Linked DNA regions of Homo sapiens: regions 1 and 3 are each linked to region 2. Evidence: fine-mapped expression QTL. A gene starts in region 2. Each other region holds a variant in brackets. All regions are shown on one strand. Distances are between the middles of the regions. Region 1 has its middle 18 kb from the start of ETV3L. Region 2 holds the start of ARHGEF11 (Rho guanine nucleotide exchange factor 11). Region 3 overlaps ETV3L (ETS variant transcription factor 3 like).

What was found. PIP is the estimated chance that this variant, and not a neighbour inherited with it, causes the effect. A credible set is the group of variants that fine-mapping cannot tell apart.
Region 1: its variant is the best candidate, but not a certain one, in a credible set for the expression of ARHGEF11 in whole blood (INTERVAL, PIP 0.81).
Region 3: its variant is the best candidate, but not a certain one, in a credible set for the expression of ARHGEF11 in whole blood (TOPMed, PIP 0.85).

The regions. Positions count from the first base shown.
Region 1 is chr1:157,080,063-157,084,062 of GRCh38, forward strand. No RefSeq gene overlaps it. Among named protein-coding and RNA genes, the nearest start is that of ETV3L, 18 kb to the right of the region's middle. The variant C/T (reference allele first, on the strand shown) is at 1,947.
Region 2 is chr1:157,043,263-157,047,262 of GRCh38, forward strand. It overlaps ARHGEF11 (Rho guanine nucleotide exchange factor 11), which reads right to left and starts at 2,480. Exons shown (of 41, transcript NM_198236.3): 1 at 1,037-2,480. The coding sequence starts at 1,068. RefSeq lists a silencer at 2,391-2,690.
Region 3 is chr1:157,092,671-157,096,670 of GRCh38, forward strand. ETV3L (ETS variant transcription factor 3 like) reads right to left here. Exons shown (of 5, transcript NM_001004341.2): 5 at 1-457. Among named protein-coding and RNA genes, the nearest start is that of ETV3L, 5.1 kb to the right of the region's middle. The variant C/T (reference allele first, on the strand shown) is at 2,467.

The sequences.
Region 1 (4,000 bases), 37 kb after region 2:
TATTTTTGAGGTGGAGTCTTGCTCTGTCACCTAGGCTGGAGTACAGTGGCATGATCTCAGTTCACTGCAGCCTCTGCCTCCTGGGTTCAAGTGATTCTCCTGCCTCAGCTTCCCAAGTAGCTGAGAGTACAGGCGTGCACCACCACACCTGGCTAATTTTTTAATTTTTTTATTTTTAGTAGAGATGGGGTTTCACTATGTTGGCCGGGCTGGTCTCGAACTTCTGACCTCAAGTGATCCACCCACCTTGGCCTCCCAAAGTGCTGATATTACAGCCGTGAGCCACCGTGCCCGGTCCTTTTCAAGCATTTTAGTACCTAATCAAGTCAACACAAATCTATATATGTATTTTCCCCCTTCTTAAACAAATAGTAAAATCCCACATATACTCTTCTGCTCCCACTTTTTTCTTTTAAGACAAACTTGAGAGGTAATTCCACATCAGTACATAATAAGCTTCTGCTTTCTTTTTGACAGTGCATAGTGTTCCGTTGTATGGATGTACCATTATTTGTTTAATCAGCACACCAAAGGTGGACATTTAGGCGCTTCCGATATTTTTCTTTTGAAATCATGCTGCATCAAATTTCCTTGTGATTTTGCACCTGTACCAGTATATCTGTATCATCTCTGTTTCATAGTTGGGGCAGCTGGGGCTCGAGGTGATGAAATGACATGTCTAAGATCACAGACGGTCATCAAAGCAAGTTCTACAGCCCAGCCACCGTCAGAGTTTCTCTCCAGTACAGCATGGAGCCTGGATTTTAGTTCAGCAGCCCTTGTTGCGTGTTGCCATATGCCAGACCCTATCTAGGCCCTATCTAGAGCTTGATAGGGCCTCGTCCCTGCCCTGGGGCAGCTTACATTCCAGGGTAATTTGCACACGATGCAGTCAGTGCTATGATAAAGCTAGGCACAGAGGAAAGGCAGTTGACCCTGCCTGTGGTGTCAAGATGAGCTTCTGGGCCGGGAAATATTTAGGCCGGGTGTGGTGGCTCACGCTGTAATCCCAGCACTTTGGGAGGCAGAGGTGGGCGGATCATGAGGTCAGGAGATCGAGACCATCCTGGCTAACATGGTGAAACCCCGTCTGTACTAAAAAAAAGTACAAAAACAAAAAAATTAGCTGGGCGTGTTGGCGGGTGCCTGTAGTCCCAGCTACTCAGGAAGCTGAGGCAGGAGGATGGTGTGAACCCGGGAGGCGGAGCTTGCAGTGAGCCGAGATCGCGCCACTGCACTCCAGCCTGGGCGACAGAGCAAGACTCCGTCTAAAAAAAAAAAAAAAAGATGAGCTTCTGAGCAAACTCCTAAAGGATTAGGAGGAGTTAGCCTAAGAAGACGGCAGGCATGGCCTGTCAGTCGGAGGGATGAGCAGACATCCAAAGCACAGAAACACAAGCGATTTGGTACCACCAGGGTGCCAAGCGGGTGTTGGGAAGTGGCTGCAGAAGTGTGTCTGTGAGTGCGTGGGGTCCAGTGATGAGCTCCTGGATTCCATGTTGTAGGGAGCTTGGGCCTGGCTCTTTAGGTCTCATCTGAAGTCCATGGACTTTCTAGGAAAATGTTAACTTTTGTGTCTTACTTTTAATGATAATATAAAAAACAAATGAGATAATCATGGTTTGGATCATCTGGGTGGCACTTTATAACCTGTATTGCCAAATGATTTCAGTGTCTGCATTCGTCTTTGTGTTTGTGATGAGCTGGCACCAAGTAGTGCTGCTTTAATTGTCTCAGCTAATTAGAAAAGAACAGAGGAGGACTTAATATGTAAATGATGCGTTTGAGCCTGGAGGAGGCCAAATGTCCTCCCAGCAGGCTGAATGAACAAAGGGTGAGCAGAAGTTCCAATAGAGAAAAGTGGTGGGAGAAGTGAGTCATTGCACAGCGTGCCAAACTCCAGAGACCCTGAGCTGGAACTCTCCATTCCACGATCGCATTTTGTG[C/T]AGCAATTAGTTTCAGCAAACATCATCTGTCACAATACATTAATGTTTTTATTTTAAAATGTATTGGCTTTATAGTTTTGTTTCTATTTAATTGGTAAATTGCCATTGCTTTTATAGTTTTATGTGCCATAAATATATATTTATACCTAGTTTTATGTCTATATCTTTTTAAATGACATTATAGTACATATAAATTATCATCACTAGGGGGATAGAGAGATTTTTTTTTTTCCTTTCAGGGGAGCCATTGAAGAGTTTTAAGTTAAATGATCAATATGGAGTATGGATTGGAAAGGGACAAGATTAGACTATCTGTAGGGCCTAAACTAAGTCAGTGTAGAGTTGTCCAGGAGAAAGCAGATTTCGGAAATGTTTAGAAGGTGAAACTGATCGGATCTGGCAACCTACTGGGTATAGGCGGTGGGGGAAAAGACAGCATGGGCTGACACCCTGGTTCCTGCTTTGGTATAATTGGATGTATTGTGGTGTCATTAACTAAAGCAAGGAACAGAAAGAAAAGGAGAGCGGAAGGCAGCACCAGGTGTTGAGACAAAGAGTTCCATTTTGGACATGCTAAGTTTGAGATGCCTATGGGACATCCAGGCAGCAATGCTCAGTGGGCATTTGGACCCATGACCTTGAAGCTTGAGCCAGAGGTCAGGGCTAGTCATACAGATCTAGGAGCAGTCAGCATTTAGGTGGTGGTTAAGGCACAGAGAGAAGCCCAGATGGAAACTCTCTAGGAAGGATGTGTAAAATACACAGAGCTGTGGACCAGTGTTCTGGAGAACCCCAAAGTCGAGGATACAGAGGAATGCCCAGAAATGAGTTTGAAAAGCAACAGTCTTAGGAAAGAGAGAATTGGGAAGGGATGGATATTGGCAGCTAATGGAACAAAGGGCTGTCCATGATGTCACAACCAGAGGACAAAATAAGATAAGGACAAAAATGTGGTCACTGGATTTAGTACTATGAAAGTCATGGAAAAAAACACGGCACCACTCTCCTTCCTAAGCCCCCAGCACAACCTTGGAATCCTTCTTGACCATGTGCTTCCTAGTTGCGTCCCAGTCAATTAACTGGAGTTGGCACAAGAGCTAACACCTGCTTGACTTTCCTTGTTTGGTACAGGTGGAGGGGTTACATCACTGGGTCAGGAACAACCCATTCTTGAGACTAGAAGTAAGGACTGGCGGAAGGAAAGGAAGCCCTAGTAGGAAGTACAGTAGACTTTGTTTTTTTATTTGTTTTGTTTTGTTTGTTTTTTTGAGACGGAGTTTTGCTCTGTCGCCTACGCTGGAGTGCAATGGCGCTATCTTGGCTCACTGCAACCTCCACCTCCCAGGTTGCAAGCCATTCTCCTGCCTCAGCCTCCCAAGTAGCTGGGATTGCAGGCATCTGCCCCCATGCCCAGCTAATTTTTGTATTTTTTAGTAGAGACGGGGTTTCACCATGTTGTTCAGTGTGGTCTTGAATTCCTGACCTCCGGTGATCCACCTGCCTCAGGCTTCCAAACTGCTGGGATTAGAGGTGTGAGGCACTGCGCCTGGCCAAGGAATTGCAGTAGACTTTGGAGATGAAGGGAGTGGGATGTGGGTGGGGGAAGATTTAGAACAGATGCTGAGAGCTGACCCAGGACTAGCAAAAGGCTTGTGAGGGCCAGATGAGGTTGGAGAGGGAGGGGTTTATGGTAGCAACAAGTCTTGCAGTTGGGAGATTTTCTCCATCAGTTCACAGCAAGTTGATGGTAGGAAAAGTGAGTGTGATTGACACTCAGGGGTTCATACATAGGTTTTACTTTTCCTGATGACCTGGAACAACTCTCCTCAGGGGCCTTTGAACCTGCAACTAAAAAATAAATGGATGGACTGGACGATATCCCTGGCTCCATTGCTAAGTCCTGGCAGTGGTCCATGGTATCTGAGCTGCGTGGGTCTCATGGCATTAGGATGCCCAAAGACCCAGTCTCACCTGTTGCTTGCTTTCTTCTGGCTGAACCCTCCAGGTATTTATGGTGGTGGTCACTCAGTTTTCCCCTGTGGTTGCCCTGCCTG
Region 2 (4,000 bases):
CTTTCATTTGCTTGTTCAGTCCTTCAACCACCCATCTATCCAGTTAGGATGTGTGCAGTGCCCACAAAACACACCCCCCACAGCAAGGTTCTCATGGGGAGAAGCGTTGAGGAGGGGTAGGGGAGGGAAGGAAAAGGCAGACACCTTACAAAGTTGTACCAATCATTTGGAGGTAAGAATTGCAACCACACAGTAACATTACCAGTGATAGAGGTGGCTGGGCAGACTCTTGGGGCAAGGGGTGTCATGTGTTCAGACTCTGAGGGCCAGTGCTGCTGCCCAGCAGGCCTACGAGCCCAAAACAATTTCTTCTGGCTCCAGGCAGAGGGAAGGCCCATTTTGCAGAGTCAAGCTTATTAAGAACAGCTTGGAAGATTAAACCTAGAGCATCAGCCGGTTGGCAGGTCTCAATTCAAACTCTAAGCTTGGAGGAGAGGAAATTCTAATGTGATCTATGCATTTTGGGACCATGTCAGCTACTGGTAAAAATCCAGACTTGCATGGGTGCAAAGGATGTTTCTGTCCCATCATTCAGGCCAAGAACATCCTCTTCATTTCTAGAAATGGGATCCACCCCGTCACCAAGCCCCACCATTCCATACCAACCAGCCTGGTGGAGGCCCACGCCTCTGCCAGGGCCCTTCTCCCAGCAGCTCCAACACCTAAAGCCAGTCCCCCTAGTGCAACCCTAGGAGCTCACAAGACTGGCTTGCCCCCACCTGAGACTAGCAAGTTGGGTGGACTCAAATTCAGCCTCTACCCTGGCAAAAGTCAAAAGCCACTGGAAGCACATCCTCCTCCTTTCCCTCTCCTGGCTTCACTGTTTATTGCTTATATTCAAAAGACGCTGAATCAAGAGCTATGTTTTTGCACATAACCACATAGGCTGACAGTCCCCAGAGACTAATGCTCCTAGCCCACCAATTCCCATAGCCCACCCAGACCCCTATTTTCAACCATTTATTAAAATGCAACACCACCCCTCCCAGTCTTTCCTTTAGTCAATGTTGAAAAATCAAATTATTAGCAAACCTACCTGTCTATACTCTGGGGTAACCTTACACTCATGGTTTCTCGGTGTCTCCACGGTTCCAGAATCCTGTAGCTTTGGTGTCTTGATCAGGATTGAATCGCTTGCAATTTTTGAGCAAGGTGAGAGGAGGGCCTCCCAACTTGAAGATAGAATCCTTTCTCCTCCAGCTCTCAGGACCCTGGTAACTGATGCTCCACTCTACTTCTACCAGTGAACATGATTTCCTTTCTCAGCCCCTCTTCCCCTCCCCCGCTTTAAAAAAAAAGAAAAGAAAAGAAAAAAGAAAAAAAAAGGAAAAGAGGAAAAACTACGACCTTCTCAGAAACCAAAAACCCAGCCACGAATCTCTTCAAGGTTAGCACTATGGCCAAAAAAAAATGAATCACAGAAAAATGTGCCTTCAAAATATCACTGTTAACTGCAAAGTACAGATAAAACCATCCTTTAAATCCAGCTTTCTCAGCTGTCCTTCTGTTGGCAAGAGACCCTCTAGCTCAAAGGGGGAAAGTAATTTTCTAGTCTCCAATGCTTAATATGACAACAGCAAATATCTTTGAGGAAAGGAAAAAAAAAAGGATTAATAAATCCGAAATGGCACTTGGAAAAATTCTTTCGGCTGATTTGTACAGTAAAATAATAAATAAAACCATACAATAGTATGTACACAACAGCACTCCTTCCAAGTCCAGTGCAACCCTGGGAACCAAAATTTATGGACTTCCTTAAAAAAAAAAAAGCTTTTACATTAAATGTTTTGAAATTCTTAAATGAGCCAATTGCACCAAAAAAAAAAATAAAATAAAAATCAAAGAACACCTGAAATGCAATGCTTTTTACCTTTAAGATGGTAGTAATGATAACAAACCAGAGATAATCTCTGAAAATATTCTCTCCTTTTCTTTTTCCTTTAAACTTGCAGGTTCCTCCACCTACCCCAGCCTGATTCTCAGACCCAGCCTACGTTCGGCCTTTTTCTGAAAGACAATTTCCTGAGTTAGTTCTGCTGTTGGGCTCCTCCACATCCAGGCTCCGAAATTTTCTCTTGCCTCAGCCTCCATGAAACGGAGATTTCGCTTCCTCCCGTTCCCCCTTCTCTCTCCCTCTCTCTCGCCCGGCCAGAAAGACGGCTCCCTTATTATTCGTTCGGATTATTATTGTGGATTTGAGTTCGAGGTGGGTTTTTCTTCCACACCAGACTCCTGGAAAATCCGATCGCCTGTCTCCTCTCGGCCTCTCCTTGCCTCCCTTTCCGCCCCTCGCCTAATCTCGCAGGCAGGAGCCCGCAGTGCCTCGCGCAGGACGCCCGGCCGGGCCTCGGGCTCCCGGCGCCGCTCGCCCCGCGCCCGACCGCCGTGTTCCGGCCTTCGCGGCCGCTCGGGACGCCAGGCTCGGCGCACAGGGAAGGCTGCGGCGGCTGCGGCAGGCCGGCACGAGCGGGCGTCCGACTGCCGGCGTCGCGGCCGCGCTCGCCTCCTTCCGGGCCCCTTCCCCCTCGGTTCGCCGCTCGCTCGGGCGCAGGCCCGGCCGGCCGCCCCCCTTCCCTCCCTCCTTCCCTGCGAGCCTTTCTCCTTCCCTCGCTCCCGCGGGGCGGGGCCGCAGGCTCCTCCTCCTCGCTGCGCTGCCCGCCGCCCGCCGGCCTTTCCCCTCACGCCGCGGCGGCCGGGGGCGGGGGCGGGAAGCTGACCGCCTTTCCCTGCCTCGGTTCCCGCGGCCGCGACTCCCGCCGACCGGCCCGCCCCTGTCCCGGCCTCCCTGCGCGCCCTGCCCCCCACAACCCTTTGCCGTCGCTCCTCGGCCGGTCCCCTCTGCGGCCCCTCAGTCGCCGGCCCTGCCCCTCGGCGCGGCCTAGCGGGTTCCCATCTCAGCCGGATCCCCGGCCCGGCCCGCGGGCGACCCCGGCCCTGACCCCGCCAGGCACCGCGCGCCGTCCCCGCCGCCGCCACCGCCACCGCCACCCCTGCCGCCTTTTCGCCGCTTTTCCTCGGCTGCTTTTCCCCCTTTTATTGACTTCTGCTCGGGAGCCGACCTTTGTTTCCTACCCCCTGCCCGCCCAGCCACCGTGCCCGCGCCCCGTGCCCCTGCCCACGGGTGCAGGTTTACCTCTTTGCGTCCACCGGCATTACCCCGGCGCCCGCAGCTGCGGCTCACCCTCTCTCCACCTCTCTTCTGATCTTATTTTTCAAACATTTGTTGCGGCCTCCTTCGTGGTGTCAGTTCTTTTAACTGTTTCCTCCCGTTTCTGTGGTCCTTCCCACTTCTAATACCACCGACTTAGGGGGAAGACCCTTCGCTGTTTCCTCTCGGGTTGGGTTGGGCATCTTAATAGCAGGCTGTGTGAAGTGTCTTTGAACTCTATGGAAGAGCCTTTCCAGAGCAATTCTATTTTCATAACCCCCTCTCATAGAATCACAGTTTCTAAATCTTTACAAGTAACGTGACATTTGTCAGAAGGTGCCGAGCGTTATGATTAAAAATCATTAAGGCCGAGGCGGGGCCTGAGGTCAGGAGTTCGAGACCATCCTGGGCCAACATGGTGAAACCCCCCCCCTCTACTAAAAATACAAAACTAGCCGTACGTGGTGGCGCGTGCCTGTAATCCCAGCTACTCGGTAGGCTAGGGCACGAGAATCGCTTGAACCCGGGAGGCGGAGCTTGCAGTGAGCCGAGATTGCGCCACTGCACTCCAGTCTGGGCAACAGAGCGAGACTCCGTCTCAAAAAACTAATAATAATAAAATTTTTTTTAAAAAATTATTAAAATAAAAAAACTCTCACTAGGATTGGGGAGTGGACTTTGCCTTCTTGCCTAGGTAAATGCCATTGTAAAATACTCTGCAGGCAGTGGGGTGTTTGCATAAGTTCTCTCCTTTCACACTACCTGGATTGTTCTGGGAGGGGGTGGATATGTATATGTAAATTATCTATACACATTCGTGAGCTCTGGAGTGACCTCACCAGTGTTAGAAGT
Region 3 (4,000 bases), 49 kb after region 2:
ACTGCTTTGAGGTTCTCCAGATTGGGGGAAGTAAGGCTTTCCTCCCCAGTTTTGAGTCTGCGGGTCTCTGGGCAGAAGACCTCCCTGGGATCCAGGCCTCCCTTTGCCTCCATCATGGGAGCAGGCTTTACTTCCAGCCCCTCGGGCCTGAGGGACAAGAGCCAAAGCCTCTCACCCGCACCCTGTCCCAGCCCTGCCAAGAGAGGAAGCCCTGGAAAATGCCAGGCCCCTGGGAGGCTCCTAGGTCCTGGGAGCAGGATGTCTGGCTTAAAAGCCCCTGGGAGCTGCTGCTCTGACGGGAGAGGAGGCAAGAAGGGCCCCGAGAGACAGGTCCAGTTGGAGGGCAGAGGGGGCGGGAGGGGAGGAGTGAAGGAGGCAACACCAGGCAGCTCGCCTTGGACGCTCCCCAAATGGCAGCAAAGGCCCAGCCGGCAGGGGCCTGGGGCAGAGCCAAGTCCTAGAGAAAGAAAGAGAGAAAGGGTCAAGGGAGCCCAACCTCTCGCAGATGCTCCTTGCTCCTCCCATTTCCCAGCCCTTCTTGTTTCTTGCTTGGAAGTCTCTTCCTCGCCCCACTGCCCTTCCTTTTCTTTCTGTCTTATTTTTTTGAGAGAGAGTCTCTCTCTGTCACCCAGGCTGCAGTGTAGGCTTGAACCCCACCTGGGTTCAAACGATCCTCCCACCTCAGCTTGCTGAGTAGCTGGGACTACAGGTGCGTGTGCCACCATGCCTGGCTAATTTTTGTGTTTTTTGTATAGATTGAGTCTCGCCATGTTGCCAGGCTTGCCCTTCCTTTTATGCTTTTCTTTTCTTTTTTCTTTTTTTTCTTTTCTTTTTTTTTTTAAACAGAGTCTTGCTCTGTAGCCCAGGCTGGAGTGCAGTGGCGTGATCTTGGCTCACTGCAATCTCCGCCTCCCGGGTTTAAGCAATTTTCCTGTCTCAGCCTCTCGAGTAGCTGAGACTACATGTGCATGCCACCACATCCGGCTAATTTTTGTATTTTTTTGTAGAGACAGGGTTTCACCATATTGGTCAGGCTGGTCTCGAACTCCTGACCTCAGGTGATCCACCTGCCTTGGCGTCCCAAAGTGCTGGGATTACAAGCATGAGCCACCGCGCACAGCTCCTTTTCTGCTTTTCTTTAGGCCTCATCATAAATATCACTCTTTGGAGAAGACTTCTGAGACTCCTAGCCTAGGCGAGAGTGCCTGCTGCCTGCTCTCATCCCTCCATGAACCTCTCCTCCAAGGGCACTCGGCTGAGTTAGGGTCATGTAGTCATTTGTGTGCTTTTTATTTAATGTCTGTGAGCCCAACTCTTTGGGGGCAGGGGCTGTAGTTGTTTTATTTTCCCTCGAATCTACCCAGTCTGGACATAATCAGTGCTCAAGAAAAATGTGTCCAGTGAATAAGGGAAGGATATTCTCTGCTATATCTCAATGGATCCATTCTTCACTCCCTGCCCCTGCAGCAAGGGCCTCCAGTCTAGCCGGGCAAAGAACTGGTTGTGTGGCCTTGGCCTTGTCATTTAAATTTGCAGTCCTCTGTTTCTTCATCCATAAAATCCCCTCTCCTAGCTTGGATTAAGCTGTGTCATGGGTAAGAAGAGGCCCTGCAGAGTGCATGACGGGAGGCCCAGGGCAGGTATGGGGAGCCCCAGCCTCCTTCTTCTCTGTCTCACTCTGGTCCATAACTTTCCACCTCCAAAAAGGCTTCCTTCTTCCTGCTCCTTCTAATCCTGCCTCTTTCCCTCTCCAACCCTGCCAGGGCCCTACAATAGGGCCTCCCAGCTGGGGGCCTTGGAGATGACTATATAGAACTTCACATCACTTTCTGTATTTCGAAAAGCCTAACTGCAATTCCACATTTTTCTTAGCAAGACCACATCATTTAACTAAAAGAACAAGCATCAACCCAACTTAGTCACATTGGTTGGGCTGTAGTGAATAAAAACTGGAAAAACAGGCCAGGTGTGGTGGCTCACGCTTGTAATCCCAGCACTTTGGGAGGCCGAGGCGAGCGGATCACCTAAGATCAGGAGTTCGAGACCAGCCTGACCAATGTGATGAAACCCCGTCTCTACTAAAAATACAAAAATTAGCCGGGCGTGGTGGCACGCACCTGTAATCCCAGCTACTTGAGAGGCTGAGACAGGAGAACTGCTTGAACCCGGGAGGCGGAGGTTGCAGTGAGCCAAGATCACACCATTGCACTCCAGCCTGGGCAACAAAAGTGAAACTCTGTCTCAAAAAAAAAAAAAAAAAAAAACCTGGAAAAACAAATTAGTTATTACTTAATATGTCCAGTGTATTTGATAAGAAGAATATTTCTGAAGTCAGATCTATGTAGGGAGAAAACAGTGACAGTGATCCTCTAAAGAACAAGTGTGGAGGCCCCTATCAGAACACCCTCTCTCTGGGTCATTGTCCTTTTCCTTGGGTCCTTAGATGAGGTGGAGACTGCTGTTGCA[C/T]GGGAAGGCTGTGTCCCTCGGGGCTCCTGAGGGCATGTGGAAGAGATATTTTTATTTCTAAGAGTCCTCCTCTCATTCTCCAACAGGTTCCCAACCTTTCCCAGCACTGGCCCTGCAGCTCCCTGCCTCCGGCTCAATAGACCTGGCACTCCCGGAAGCAGCTTCCTTTCTTGGCACCAAATGCTCTGAGTGAGGGGTGGAGGTGAGGGGCTGGCACAGGCTTCTGGAATCTCAATCTAGAAGTGGGGCATGTGGCTGCTTCCAATCTTCTGGTGACCTATACCTGCTTAGCATCCCTTAGGGCCAAAGCATAGGCAGGGCATGTGTGTTTGCCTGCAGAGGGGAGGGAGGTGCAAAATAGCCCACTCCAAGTGGGGCTTGGGAGGGAACACTTTTTTCTTTCTTTCTTTCTTTCTTTTTTTTTTTCTACCACTATCCACCTGGAGAGGGAACACTTTTTTCTTTCCCTTATAGTTTCCTAAAGAGAGAAGCTCTCTGCCCAAGGCATTCCCAGAGCTGGGACGGGGTGGGTGGGGGTGGAGAAACAGGGAGGACTGTTCAGGTGCTATTTAGCTCCAGGCTGCCAGACCAGGCCCAGCGAGTCCCAGCAGGCCCTGGAGCACCCCACACCCATGGCCTCAGCTGCACTCCCAGGGGTGCAGAGCTTGGGCCCCCAGCAGCTCAGGGGTGGGGTGAAGGCCATGGATCCTTCTTCCATGAAATTGGCTGGAGTAGAGGGGCAATTCTTTGACCTCTGCACAAGAGCCTTGGTTTGGCCAAGTGTCTCTGTGATCTTTTTCACAGAAAATCTGATACTGTCAGTTCCCAGCTCACAGCCTCTGTAAGAGCTGATGTCTGCCTCCATTTCCACCTCTTCTCCCACTCATTGGCCATGTGTTTCTGCACTGGCCTTCTCCCAGTCTCTCTGTTCCAGGGCCATTGCATGCACTATTCTCTCGCTCGCCCTCTGTTCCAGGGCCATTGCACACACTATTCTCTCGCTCGCCATGCTCTCCCTACTCCCTCTGAGCTAAGCTGACACTCACGTATACTTTGGGTGTCATCTCAAGTGTCACTTTGTCAAGGAAGTCTTCCCTGATGCCCTCGGCACCCTGCACTTCTCCTCTGCAGCAGTTAGCACAGTTATAATCACTTATCGATCATTAGTTGAATATCTGCACCCCCCTTGCCTATAAGTCCCATAAAGGCAGTGTTGCTCACATTGGCTTCCTAGCCCCTAGGACAGTGCCTGGCAAATTAAACAGGAGGTCATTAAGCATCTGTTGAAAGAAGAAATGAATGAGTGAGTGAATGAGTGAATGAACCCTATCTTCCCAATCTCTCTCCAGCTGAGCCTCCTTCTTCATCCCATGGCCGTTGTCTTGGTTACCGCCCCATCATCTCCTGCCTAGATTATCTTCAAAAGCCTCCCAACTCCAGTCTTATGCTTCCTCCAACCCAAACTCTACACACACACAGTCATCTTTATAAAATGAAAGTCTGGCAGGGCGCGGTGGCTCACGCCTGTAATCCC